Linked DNA regions of Homo sapiens. The protein of the gene in region 1 interacts with the protein of each later gene in a biochemical or structural test. Each region holds a gene or a part of one and is shown in the gene's direction. Other genes may lie near its edges.

Region 1 (7,022 bases):
GCACCTGGGCCACAACTCTTGCCCGCTTAGGCTTCCTGCCCCCAACACCCCCAGTTATCTGTGGTTGCTTGCGCCCCCACTGGGGGCAGCTCCCATCTTAGCTGAGGGGATGGGGGTCCATACAGCCCTGCTGCACCCAGCGGTCCTAGCTCCCTTGCTGTGAGCCTTAGCCAGGGGTGTGGACATCCAGGTGGCATCTACTCTGGTTGCTGAGATGCTTGGAGATCCTGGTTGTGGCCAAGGAGAGGGATTTGAGGGGGGACCTGCAGTGCATGGAGACTGCCCCTGTAGGCTCTCAAACCTAAGTCTGGCTCAGCAGCCCCTGTTCCCCGCTCCTACAGCCTTGGCTTTCCCTGTTTCCCAAGAACTTTCCAGGGGTGTTGGCAGAACCCTCGCGGGTGCGTGTTAATCAACAATGGAGCCAGAAGCAGGTCCCAGAGGTGGATGGGGCTGATCTGGCTGCCTCCCCAAAAGACAAGGCCATGCAGAGCCAGCTCTCAGGGTGCAGCACCCAACTTTGTGGACTCCAGTGCCCTCCTATCTCCAGGCTCTGGCATTGGAGTCTGAAGCAGCTGCTGGGCAGTTGTTCTGCAGCTGGGCAGGGAGGCCAGAGGCCAAGGCAGGTGGTGGGGCTGGGCACAGAGGAGGACGGGGCTCTCTGAGCCATCAGGTCTCTTTCTCTCCATCTTCTTTAAGATCTGTCCACCCACTCCTCAGCCCTAGATTCCCAGGAAAACTGGGAATTCCTTTTGGGGCTTTTCCCAGTGCTACCTTCTGTGGGGCATGAGCCCTTGGTCTCATCCCCTGGCTGTCTGGGGTCCCCTCACCTACATCGCAGACCCGGCCCAGTGTTTCTAGATCCGCTCTTGCCAACATGTCGAGTGCCTAACTGTGGCTTCGTACTAGTTGGGGGGAACACAGGCATCCCTTACCCCTGGCCGTCAGCTGGGGAGGGGGTAGTCCAGGTGGCAAGAGCCTAGAGCCTGGGAGAAAGGGCCTCCCCAGCCTGTGTGGGGACAGGGGATCAGGAGGGTGGTAGGGACTTGGGTCCTTGCAGGTGGCCTGGGCAGTGCCTGGTGGGCATGGATCAGGTGGCAGGGCTTTGTGTCTGGGCATGGCCCTGTGGCTGGGCTGCCTTGGCCAGGGTCCTGGGCCTTCTGAGTCTGCGTCTCATTCTCTGTGGCAGGCTCCTGGTGCTGGCACCTTCAGTGCAGGGTGCCTCGGTTGGAGGGAACATTCACCCGTGCCTGGCACTGAAGCCACAGCTCCCTGTGGGCATGGTGCCCGCAGCTTGAGCCTACAACCCTGGGGTACTGGGGGCAGGAGGGTCCCTTTTTGCTTGGCAGTTGCGAGGTACTGGAACCTTTGCATATAACGTGCGGGCTGCGTTGTGTCACAGGGCCGGGTCTGAGGGAGGGGCTTTGCGGGGACACTCCTGGGTACCGATGGGATGAACTTCCGCTGGGCCTGAAGGCCTGGGATGCTTTTGGGCCGGCCAGTGCGGGGTCAGGTGGTTGGAGCCAGGGAGCTGGCACGTCAGCTGCTGCTATGAGTTCTGCCACGTGCCATCCTGGCATGTGGCACGTCTTGCAGAGGACAGGAAGGGTGAACAGCTCCAAACCCACCCTATGTGTGCTCCAGAGCTGGAAACAGGCTGTGCGGAGCTGAGTGCCTTTGGGGGCAGCTGAGATGGGCAGGAGCACCGTGCCCACCGAGGGTGTCAGAGTGACAGGGGTTGCCAGGCAACTCCACCCGGGTGGCTGATGCCCCCGTTTTTAAAGGCGTTGGGTGCCGAGAATTCCCCTCCTGCTGCTAGGCTGGTTTCAAGTCTGCTCCTTCTGCACTTGACGTCCTTGCCAGTGTGATCCAGAGCTGCTCACACGAGCAAGCGTCCTCGAGTCCTAGGGATGCTGTTAACAGGGCAGCGGGTCCAGGGAGCTGGTCCTGACGCAGGGGTCCTGATGCAGCGGGTCCAGGGAGCTCATGCCTTCCAGCGATGGGAATGCCACCGGTCCCTGTAGCCAAGGTGCAGATGCACACGTCCTGGTCCTGAGCCCCTGCTCGGCCCTAGGCAGGGCCCCCAGTTCCCTGCATTCCACCCGCCTTGTCTGGGAGGTGGACGAGCCCTCCGTAGCCCTGACATTCCAAACTGGCTTTTGGCCCCTGCGATATCTTGCTGTGATTCAAGACTCTGTCCACGGGCAAGAACAACAAGGCTGGGACAATCTCATCTCAGGCATCTGTGGGAGGAGACAGCTCCCAAGGGCGGTGATGCCAGGAGAACATTCCAGGCCCAGGAAGAGCTGAGAGACAGCAGATGCCCAAGACGAGTTGCTGGTGTGTGGCCAGTGCTGGGAGAGCATGGTGTCGGCCCGGGGAGATGCCGCAGAGAAGCTTCCAGAAGCCCAACATCTGCTGCTGGAGGGGAGAATGAGGCAATGAATATCACCATCCTGGGCCACTTTGACCCAGACCCCAAGGATTTGGTTACAGAGGGGAGGGCGGCAGCGTCTGGCTTCACTCTCGGGAGGTGCCTTGGGGCTGGCCAGTATGGGATTGCTGTCACTGTGGGTCACTCCAGCCCCGGATGCTCCTACACCATGCTCTGCTTGCATCTGGGGTCCCTGCGGGCACGTCGGTGAGACCGTCCTGGCCTCCACACCCCTTCCTGGTGGGTAGCTGTCTCTCTCCAGCAGCTCCTCCAACCACCATGAGAAACCCCAGACCTCACAGATGCAAAATTATCGTGGTTGACAAAGGGAGGCGGCTGGTGTCTCTGGTACTGGCTGGGTGACCACAGGGATGCCGCGTGACCCTAGTCCAGGGGGCCGCTTTTACACGAGGCATCTGACCATGTGATAGGGTGTGGCTTCTGCTGCCTGGCCCAGCCCTCTTCTGGGAGCCCCACGTGGGTGGGTGCTGGCTGGGGAGGGGCTTCTCTCTGGGGAGCAGGCCCTGGCTGGAGGTGGGGAAGATCCATGATGGGACCCAGGTGTCTTCCCACTTCTCGACCATCTCCTGGGAAGTTCTAATGTTTGGTTCAGGGTGTGGGGTCCATCTGAGCAGGCATGGTGCTTCCAGAAGGATCCAGGTTAAGGGTGGTGGGTCCAAGGGGGTGCCTGAGCCCTTCTGCAGAAACACCGTTCCCCGTAGAGCAGCAGTCCCCAACCTTTTTAGTACCAGAGACCTGTTTTATGGAAGAAAGATTTTTCCACCCGGGCAGTGGTGATCTTGGGATGAAACTGTTCCATCTCAGATCATCAGGTATTAGATTCTCATAAGAAGCGTGCAACCTAGATCCCTTGTGTGCGCAGTTCACAATAGGATTTGTGCTCCTGTGAGAATCTAATGCCACCGCTGATCCAACAGGAGGTAGAGCTCAGGTGGCCGTGCACATTCACCTGACGCTCACTCACTGCTGTGCGGCCTGCTCCCTAACAGGCCACGGACCCGGGGTTGGAGAACCCTGTCTTAGAGGATTGAGGCTCGGGGCCATGGGATCGGCACTGTCATTGCCCTTGGAGGGTTCTGAGCACTGGAAGGACCTGGCTGTGGTCCCAGGCACTGGGTGGATGGACCAGCAGAAAGGCTCCCAGGAGGGTCGTGGCTCCCTCATCGGCACCGGACTCTCAGGATGAGCCGCCTGGAGTCTGTTGGCATCTGCCTGGCCGCCTCTGGCAGGAACTTCTCCTGATGGAAGAGCCGGGCTGGGGAGCTGACTCCAGGACAGGCCCCTGCCCGCTCTGGGACCTGGGGCCTGGGCTCTGCTCCCCATTTCGCTCCTCCACTCACAGATGAGGACATTTGGGTCGCCTTACAGATGAGACAACTAGGCCTGGCCACTTTGCTCATGCCACACCCAGAAAGCCCTCAGGACACCCAGAAGCCCTTAGGATGCCCAGAAGCCCTTAGGATGCTGTGGTCTCAAGTGAGGTGGTGCACTATTCCTGGCCTCAGGCCCAGTTTGTATCCATGGGCACCCCCACTCCCACCTAGCACTTGCCACCAGGAAGCACCCTGAGGACTGTCCCCTTTGAGAGTTGGCTCTCAAAGCCTTGGTCTGTGCCTGCGTCCTGGCAGCGGGTGAGCTACGGCTGCCCTCACCCAGAGAGTGCAGGTTCCCTGGGGGCGGGGGCTCTTAGCTTTCCCTCCATATCTGCTAAGGTGCACACCTTTCTCTGCTGCCTTCCAAAATCATACTCTGGGGCGCACTGAAAGGGTGCTCTGAGTAGCTCTCCCCGGCTCCTGGCTGAACTTGCTCCAGGCAGAGATTTGAAGAGATTCAGAAAGCAGGAACCACAGGCAGAGCAGCTGGACAGGGACCCCCACCCCTGTACTCCCTTCGGCCCTGGAATGCTCCTCTGCATGGAGACAGCCCAGCTGCACTGGGACCCCTCACCCCACCCTGGGGCCAGGGGCTGTGTCCTCGACTTCCACGCAGAGCAGCCCGGGCAGCTTAGAGGAGGGAGCAGAAGGAGCTCTGACTGAGAGGGGTAGACCCCTCCCAGAGGCATCCCCACCCTGCCCCAAAGAGGGGAGCAGCTGGAGACGGGGCGGGAACCTCCTCTGGCTATATCTAAGCAGCCCCGGGAACCATGCGCTTCAAGCGTTTGATCTTGACGGGCCCTGGGCTTGGCATTCTATTCCGTGACGTCTCCAGCTGTTCTCTTGTGAAGAGTCACGTCTGTGCTCTTGGCTAGGATGGCTCAAATATTATAAAACATACAGCTTTGCTAATTAAAACAGCATGACATTGCCTTATAGGCAGGCAGATCACCAATGGAACAGCTTTTTAAAAACCGCATGTAACTCCATTGTATATGAAGTTTCGTAAAAGAGGCAGCATCTCCAACCAGTGGGGAACAGATGGGCGGCTTCATGCGTGCTGCGGGGTGGGTGGGTGGCCATGTGGAAAGTGACCAGACTGCACCCACTTGTCACATCACACACCAGGATAGACTCCCAGTGGGTCAGAAAACCACTTGGGTACCTAAAGAAAGCGCCTGGAATTCTTTACCCTGAGAGCGAAGAAACTTTTCTATGACTTGAATGCTAGATGCGTGGAGGAGATTTATGTGTTTGACCACATAAGAAAGAAGCAACCTTGGCTGGGTGCGGTGGCTCACGCCTGTAATCCCAGCACTTTGGGAGGCCAAGGCGGGCGGATCACCTTAGGTCGGGAGTTCGAGACCAGCCTGACCAACGTGGTGAAACCCTGTCTCTACTAAAAATACAGAATTAGCCGGGCGTGGTGGTGCATGCCTGTAATCCCAGCTACTTGGGAGGCTGAGGCAGGAGAATCACTTGAACCCGGGAGGTGGAGGTTGCAGTGAGCCGAGATCACGCCGTTGCACTCCAGCCTGGGCAATAAGAGTGAAATTCCATCTCAGGGAAAAAAAAAAATCTTAATGGGAAACAGCCAATTGCCAGGCTGGGGGAAGATGTGATGTTTCACGAAGGGTTAATCTGTTTACTACAGAAAGAGTTTCTGAAAACAGAAGAAAACCCACAGCCAGCAGGAGATGTGAATACCACTCACAGGACAGTGACCCACAGGGGGACCTTGAACATGTGAGAAGGTGCCGCCTTCACTCCTGGCGAGAGGGGTGTCGAGGAAAATGTCACTGAGGTCCCTTCTGGCTGGCAGAAATCCTTTGGCATTTGCTGGTAGGCATGCAAGAGGGTAGACTCTGTGAGGAAGGGATTTGGCAACATCTAGCAAAACTGTCTTCACTGACCTGTGACCCAGCAACCCCCTCCCCAGAACCTACCTGAAGGCACTGGCAAAGGCAGGAGAAGCTGCGTGTGCAGGGCTGCTTGTGAAAGTACTGTTTGGAAAACTGCAAATGCCCATTGTAGGAGACTGGTTGAATCAGAGATTTGTGGAATATTATGCAGCTGTAAAAAAGGAATGCATAGATCTCTCTTATTATGAAGTGATTATCAGGATTTATTTAATTATTTTTTTCAGGCAGGGTCTTGCTGTGTTGGCAAGGGTGGTCTTGAAATCTTGGCCTCAAGCAGTCCTCCCACCTCAGCCTCCCAAAGTGCTTAGATTACAGGTATGAGCCACCACACCTGGCGTATCAGGATGCTTTTTAAGTGAAAAAGCACAGTGAATAAAAATATAGCAGCTATTCTTCATCTGATAAAGGGGAGGATGCAAGTCTGGATGTATATTAAAAACGAAAGCAATGGAAGCCTCCAAATCTTAAAAGTTTACCTCAAAAGGGTGGCGGGGGGGGAGGTGGCATATGGAATCAAGATGCCTCTGAATGTACCTGGTTTTATAGATTTCACTTTGAAGCCATGTAAATCAATAGCTTGCGTAATTTTTAAAAAGCTGTTCGTAATCGCTTGGTGAAAAATCCCTAAATAAATCTTAACCAGAAAAAGTAGTCCCTCAAAATTGAAATGAAACAAATGAGCCTAAAAATGTGTGCTGAATTAGTGGCTTAACCACCCAGAAGGACTGATTTCAGGTGACATATTTCTAGCGGGTTACTGCTGAAGACAAATAGAGCTGCATGCAGTGGCCACATAATTGTTGTGATACTATTTGTTATATTATTCTAAGAGTGCTGCATGGGAATTGCAGGTTAAGGTAAGTAATTGTGTTGGTATCACCAAGAATGGAGGTTTTACAAAATATGATTCACATGTAAACAGAATTAAAAACAAAAACCGTATGATCATCTCAATAGATGTAGAAAAAAACTTTTGATAAAATTCATCATCCCTTCATTAAAAAACCCTCAACAAAAATAGGCATCAAAGGAACATATCTCAATAAGAGCCATCTATGACAAACCCATGGTAAATGTGGTACTGAATGGGTAAAAGCGAGACACATTCCCCTTAAGAATAGGAACAAGACAAGGATGCCCACTTTCACCACTCCTATTCAAAATAATACTGGAGGTCCTAGTCAGAAAAATCAGGCAAGAGAAAGAAATAAAAGGGGATCCAAATAGGAAAAGAGGAACTCAAATCATCTCCCTTCACCGATGATGATAAGATTC
Region 2 (7,322 bases), on another chromosome or scaffold:
AGTGGGATTACAGGTATAAGCCACCATGCCCAGCCTCTTTTCCTTTTAGTGAATTCATTTACTGTATAAATTTGCCTCTAAGGTTCACATTGTCTGCATCCCAGAAGTTTTCAAATATATGGCAGTTCCTTTGTAATTTAATATCTTATTATTTATGTGTTTTCCTCTTTATCCATATGTTACGTGATGATATACTTATTTTTTGGTTTTCAGATATATCAAGGTGTACAGACTATATTTTTGCTGATTTATAATTCAACTGCATTGTAGTAATGGAACCCAGTCTACATAAAGCTGATATTTAAAAATTTGGTTGGACTTCTTTTGTGACCCAGCACATGGTGAGTTTTTAAAACCGTTTTATGGACACTTATAAAGAATGCACATCATTTGTTGGTTAGGTGTGGGTTCTCTCCATCTATTTTATAAAGGTAATTAATTCTATTACTCAATTCTATATGTTTACTTTTTAAAAAAATCTATCAGTTTCTGAAACCTAATTCCTACCATTGTGCATGCCTCAATTTCTTGTAAATCTGCCTGTTTCACTTTGAATATTTTGAGTCCATATACAAGCCCATGATTTTACTATCTTCTTCGCAGGTTGTTTCTTTTATCAAATTGTAGTGACATTTAATATCCTATGGATCACCTGAAATTTCAGTTTTTCTTAGATGTCTGCATTTTAGCCTTAGCTTGATATGTTTTTTCATCACCTTATTTTCAACTTTTTATTTGTTTTTATTTTAGATGTGCATCTTTATTTTGTATTTTATTTTTTGAGACAGAGTCTTGCTGTTTCACCCAGGCTGGAGTGTAGCAGCGTGATCTTGGCTCACTGCAACCTCTGCCTCCCAGGTTCAAGTGATTCTTATGCCTCAGCCTCCCAAGTAGCTGGGATTACAGGCATATGCCACCATGCCTGGCTGATTTTTATATTTTTAGTAGAGATGAGGTTTCGCCATGTTGGCCAGGGTGGTCTCGAACTCTTGGGTTCAAGTGATCCGCCCGTCTCGCCCTCCCGAAGTGCTGGGATTACAGGTGTGAGCCACCAGCCCCAGCCTAGATGTTTATCTTTTAAGAAGCATATAGCTAGATTTTATTTTGTTATTCAGTTTAATAATACTTCTTTTAATAGGTACTTATTTTAAAGGATATTGTGATTATAGATATATTCAGATATTATCTTAGTCATTGGGGCAGTTATAGTAAAAATTATAAACTGGATGACTTATAAATAACAAAAAGTTATTGCTCATAGTTTGGAGGCTGGCAGGTCCAAGACCAAGGCACTGGCAGATGCGGTGTCTGGTGAGGTCTCCCTCTTTGATTCATAGACCGTGCCTTCTAGCTGCGACCTCACATGGTGGAAAGGGGAAGGCAACCTCCCTGTAGCCTCTTTTAAAAGGGCATTAATCGCATTCACGGGGTCTCCATCCTCTTGGCCTAACCACCTCCCAAAAGCCCTACCTTTTAGTAATATCACATGGGGAGTTAGAATTTCACTATATGAATTTTGGGGGGACACAAACATTTATGCCACAGCAGATATCTTTCTACCACCTTATTTGGTGATTTCTGGGTTTTGTTTGTTTGTTTAAGACAGAGTCTCGCTCTGTCGGCCAGGCTGGAGTGCAGTGGCACCATCTCGGCTCAATGCAACCTTCGCCTCCCCGGTTCAAGCGATTCTCCTGCCTCAGCCTCCCAAGTAGCTGGGATTACGGACGTGTGCCACCACGCCTGGCTAATTTTTGTATTTTTAGTAGAGACTGGGTTTCACCATTTTGGCCAGGCTGGTCCCGAACTGCTGAGTTCAGGTGATCCACCCGCCTCGGCCTCCCAAAGTTCTGGGATTACAGGCGTGAGCCACCATGTCCGGCTGGTGATTTCTGTTTAAAAGTTTTTTCTTAAAGTGTTTTTTCCCACCTAGTTTTTCATTGAATGGGTAAAACATTCTACATTTGCTTTTATTAAAACAAGAAATGAATTTTGCTGCATTTCAATTTATAGATTTTACTATCCTACCTCGTGCCAGGTTCTGTGCTAAGTGCTGTATATATCTGTGATCACATTTAACTTTTATAACAAGCCAAATGAGCAGGAACTCTTATCTCTATCTTACAGACGAAGAATCCAAAGACCAGGGACAGTAAGTAATTTGCTCACCTGGTTTGCCAGCCTCCATGACACATCGCCGTCCAGTTCTGCCTTTAATTACCAAAGCACAACACGCTGCTTTGATTCCCCTCTCCTCGGCGCCAGAATTCAAGAGTGAAGTTAAACCGCAAGGGCTGAGTTAGAAGATTGGCCTCAGTTCCCTGTTCCCACCAGCAGGTGGCACCGTCTCCTAGCGGAATTCTTACTTGAACGTTTTGCTTCCATTTCTGCAGAGGCATGGTGAACACAGTTACACCACCAAAGTGTTCCTCCTGGCTGAGTTTGCCTATCTTGTTCAGTGAAGACAACCCATGAGGACAAATGGTGTTAATGAGAAGCTTTTGCGGAGTTACAGAGATCCTCGTATTTCTTTAAAATACACCTAATAACGTTAACTCTGCAATAATTTGTAGATCATGTTAAATCTTAGCTATCTTCCTCTTGCCACCCAGTGTGCTTCAAGCCACATGGTTCAGAGCACCATTTAATGTGAAACTCCAATTTTAAAACAAAGTGAACCTTCCTTTTACAAAACCATGAGACAAGTTACAGAGTAATGACCACCCACATGACCTTGAAGTGATTTTGAGTGAGTGAGTGTAACTTCCGTGGCTGCCATTTAAATTGGATTCAAATCCAAATGGCTCCACCTCCATGTCATCAGACCTCTTGTGCCCTGATTCCCTTGGCTAAGTTCACAGTACCTTCCACATCAGGTTGTGGCAATGATTACCTGAGGTTAATACGATAAAAGCACATGGTAAGCACTCCTAAATGATAGCCAATATAAAGACTCAGTTCTCCCAATTCCAAGGGTCCCCACCATGATAGAAAAGGATCTTTTGGTAAATAGAGTATGTTTAGCTCTTGCTAGGTCTTTAAATACTTTGCTGGGGGCCAGGCACCATGGCTCACACCTGTAATCCCACCGCCTTAGGAGACTGAGGCTGGAGGATCCTTTGCGGCCAAGAGTTTGAGACCAGCCTGGGCAACACAGCAAGACCCTATTTCTACAAAAATAAAAATAAAAATTAACCAGGCTTTGTACACACTTGTAGTCCCATTACTTGGGAGGCTGAGGCAGGAGGATCCCTCAAGCCCAAGAGTTCAAAGCTGTAGTGAGCTATGATTGCGCCACTGCACTCCAGCCTGGGTGACAGAGTAAGACTCTGTTTCAAAACAACAACAACAAACAAAAACCTCAAAACCTCTTTGTTGGACTTAACTTCCAGCTCCTCCATGTAGTACCTTAGTACCCTTGCAGCCCGTTTCTCTTTTACAAGACAACAATGTTGTTATAAACTCATTTGGATGTGGTCCCGTGGAGGAGTATTTACCAGAATCTAGCTTATTTAGCGTCTTCAGAACACGGCACTTGCCTGGAATTATACTGACCCCCTCAACCCATACCAACCACCCAGAGATGGCTGTTCTTGGCTCCTCTCCCTGGGGCCCTGTCCTTCCCACATCGTCTTCTTCTTCTTTCTTCTTCTTTCTTCTTCCTTCTTCTTCCTTCTTCTTCCTTCTTCTTCCTTCTTCTTCCTTCTTCCTCTTCCTCTTCCTCTTCTTCTTTCTTCTTTCATTGAGACAGAGTCTCACTCTGTCACCCAGCCTGGAGTGCCGTGGTATGATTTCAGCTCACTGTAACTTCTGCCTTGTGGATTCAAGTGATTCTCCTGCCTCAGCCTCCAGAGTAGCAGGGACTACAGGTGTGTGCCACCACACCTGGCTAATTTTTACATTTTTAAGTAGAGACGGGGTTTCACCATGTTGGCAAGGCTGGTCTTGAACTCCTGATCTCAGGTGATCTGCCCGCCTCAGCCTCCCAAAGTGCTGGGATTACAGGCGTGAGCCACCCCACCCAGCCCTTCCCACGTATTCTGGCAGGGAATGCTGTTGTCCCCCAAGCCTACCCTAAGAGGAAGACTTCTTCTGGGGAAAGATGTTCACTGTACCCAGGCCCTGCCCTGGCTGGAGCTGGCAGGAAGGGTCCCAGAGCAGGAACTTGTGCCACTCTGCCCAAAGCCAGAGTCCCTGAGGCACACACCCCATCAGGCACCAAGGTGAATTCCAACTGCCAGTTAGTATTTAACTTTCCACATACGATTAGATTAAACATGTGGGTTCATAAAAGCATAGGATTGCAGACTGCAGTTGCAAGGGCTTAGATGGTTGTAAGGTGAAGGTGCCCAGCAGGCTGAGGCTTGTGTGCAACCCAGAAGAGAGCTCGCTAACGCCAGCAAGAAGGTTCAGAACAGCCTGGCTTTGGAAAGGAATTTCATCCTGCCCACACACTGCATAGGTAAGTCTTAGCACACATTCTTTATTTTTTGAGGAATTAAGTAACAAAGTTATCTATGTGCCTTTTCCAGAAAATGATAAAAGGAATGATTTTCCTGGTACATGGCCTGGCTCCTCATCCACTCTTCCTTCTTTCCTTCTTGTGTTTTCCTTACTCATTTCTTTGTTAATTGCCTTAGAATGAAAATTTTGAGAGTTTTTAAAATGGAGGATTCATGGTAAACGTAGGTAATCATATTGTTTTCTCTTCTTGATATAAAAATGAAAGACTTTGCTGCCTTTTATAGGCCCAGGTGATGTGAGCGATCTACCATGTTTCAAGAAAAGAAAACTTTGGGGCTGGGCGCGGTGGCTCACGCCTGTAATCCCAGCACTTTGAGAGGCTGAGGCAGGCGGATCACCTGAGGTCAGGAGATCGAGACCAGCCTGGCCAACATAGTGAAACCCCATCTCTACTAAAAATACAAAAAAAATTAGCCTGGCGTGGTGGCTGGCGCCTGTAGTCCCAGCTACTCAGGAAGCTGAGGCAGGAGAACGGCATGAACCCGGGAGGTGGAGCTTGCAGTGAGCCGAGATCACGCCACTGCACTCCAGCCTGGGCGACAGAGTGAGACTCCATCTCAAAAAAAAAAAAAAGAAAGAAAAGAAAACTCTGGACTTTGGGGTCAAATGAGTGTTACTTTCCTAATAGTGTCCTGATTGCTGTTGTCATGAATAACACACATTCATGACAGGAATGGCTGGAATTAGGGGATCATTCTGTAGCCTGGAGACAGGGCACAACTAATGACATGTGTAAGCTCAAATCATGGTCTTGATCTTATGTCTTGTACCCAGTTGAGCCAACTGGTCACAGCAATGAAAACAGTGAGTTATTGGAATGTGTGACCTCTGCTAGGACAGTCAGTGCTGGACACTGGCTTGGGTGATGTGAGTTCTAGTCCAGGCACTGTGGCCAACTTGAGAGGCTTGTGATCTTGGACAGGTGACTTAAGCCCTCTAGGCTATAGTTATTCCACCTATCAGAGAGCAAACCAGCCTAAATGATCTCCAGGGGCCCAGCCTGTGCTAGGACTCAGCAAGAAGCATTCACTGGAAATGTAGGTCCTCCTAGGTTGATACACATGAATTGCCCATATTTGACCATTTCTAACCTATATAAATGGCTATTTCATATAATTCCAGAGAACATAAATGGTAGTTGTCTTAGCATTACTAAAGTAAATGCCTATTATGATATTCTACTTAGGGGTAGGATAAGTATGTATACCAAATATGGTTTGTTTCGATTTGATTTTTGAGACAGGGTCTCACTGTCACTGCTGAGTGCAGTGGTGTGATCATGGCTTACTGCAGCCTTGACCTCCCAGGTTCAAGCTATCCTCCCACCTCAGCCTCCTGAGTAGCTGGGACTATAGGAGTGTGCCATCACATCCAGCTATTTTTTTATGTTTTGTAGAGGTGGTGTCTCGCTATGTTGTCCAGGCTGATCTCGAACTCCTGGGTTCAAGCGATCCTCCCACCTCGGCCTCCCGAAGTGCTGGGATTACAGGTGTGAACCACTGTGCCTGGCCTCCAAATATGGTTGATGTCTATCAGTCAGTTAAACAGTAATTCTGGGAATAAAAAATTGAAATCAACCCACTTATAATTGGAATGTCTTAGCATAATGTCCTTCAACGAAGCTGCTTTCACACACTGTGATTTGTTTTTTTCCTGTGGTCATGGAGCAGGCATGGGCCACTCGGCCACATCTCATGCATCCGTATTCAAAAGCCAAATCCCTTTTGGATCCTGTTTATTTGGCCTGGCCACGGGTGAGCACTTAGACATTTAATCCCTATAGGCCCTTTCATCCCTGTGATTAAGTCTTATCAAAAAGCACCTCCTGACCGGCTTAGCAGTGGGGCCTTTGTTCACATTAGAAGGGTTGAACAAATAATGGGCAGTTGGGGCTGCTTAGCTCTAAAAGGCTGGTGAACGCTGCCATGCCTGCACCTGGAAACAAACCCAAATGACTCCAGTGGAATTCAGCACTGAAGTCCCTCATCTCAAAGACCTTTTGTGGCAGAGACTCTTGGATGGGCCTTAGGGGTCCCAGGAGTCCCCTGAAATTGAATGTAGAGCTTCCTACGTGCATAGGTATACTTTCTTGGGGAAAAATTAAGTCACATCATTTTATTTTACTTTTCGAGGGATCTTTAACACCGCCCCTCCCCCACCCCCAATTCCCACACCCCTTAAGAATAAATTAAGAATCACTGTTCTGGTAGTTTCCAGTTGAATTCCACAGAGGAACTGTCATTCATTCACACCTTCATTCAACAGATTTTTAGTAAAGATTTGCTACGTACCCATCGCTGTGTAGGGTCCCGGGATTCAGAGATGAGTAAAGCAATCCCTGCCTTCCGGGGGCTCAAGCTCTCCTGTCATCGGGACTCAGTTACTGAATCTCACTAAACATCCTGAAGGTAGGAGTTTATAGAGTGGTTTTGAGGATCACATGAATAAGCACACAATACATGGGTAATTCAAAAACGAAAACAAGGCCGGGCACGGTGGCTCACGCCTGTAATCCCAGCACTTTGGGAGGCCAAGGTGGGCGGATCACGAGGTCAGGAGATCGAGACCATCCTGGCTAACATGGTGAAACCCCGTCTGTACTAAAAATACAAAAAATTAGCCGGGCTTCGTGGCGGGTGCCTGTAGACCCAGCTACTCAGGAGGCTGAGGCAGGAGAATGGCGTAAACCCGGGAGGCAGAGCTTGCAGTAAGCCGAGATCGCGCCACTGCACTCCAGCCTGGGCAAAAGAGACTCCATCTCAAAAAAAAAAAAAAAAAAAAAAAAAAAGGAAAAAAACAAA

Evidence for each region. The genes of interacting proteins can lie anywhere in the genome.
Region 2: the proteins of KCNQ1 (region 1) and KCNE2 form a complex in vitro, tested with the Homo sapiens proteins (one study listed by BioGRID).

What each region holds. Positions count from the first base shown.
Region 1 is NC_000011.10:2,447,986-2,455,007, forward strand, and holds part of KCNQ1 (potassium voltage-gated channel subfamily KQT member 1), read left to right. Parts: intron 1-7,022. UniProt on the Homo sapiens protein: Pore-forming subunit of the voltage-gated potassium (Kv) channel involved in the regulation of cardiomyocyte excitability and important in normal development and functions of myocardium, inner ear, stomach and colon.
Region 2 is NC_000021.9:34,359,693-34,367,014, forward strand, and holds the start of KCNE2 (potassium voltage-gated channel subfamily E member 2), read left to right. Parts: upstream 1-4,313; 5' UTR 4,314-4,459; intron 4,460-7,322. UniProt on the Homo sapiens protein: Ancillary protein that functions as a regulatory subunit of the voltage-gated potassium (Kv) channel complex composed of pore-forming and potassium-conducting alpha subunits and of regulatory beta subunits.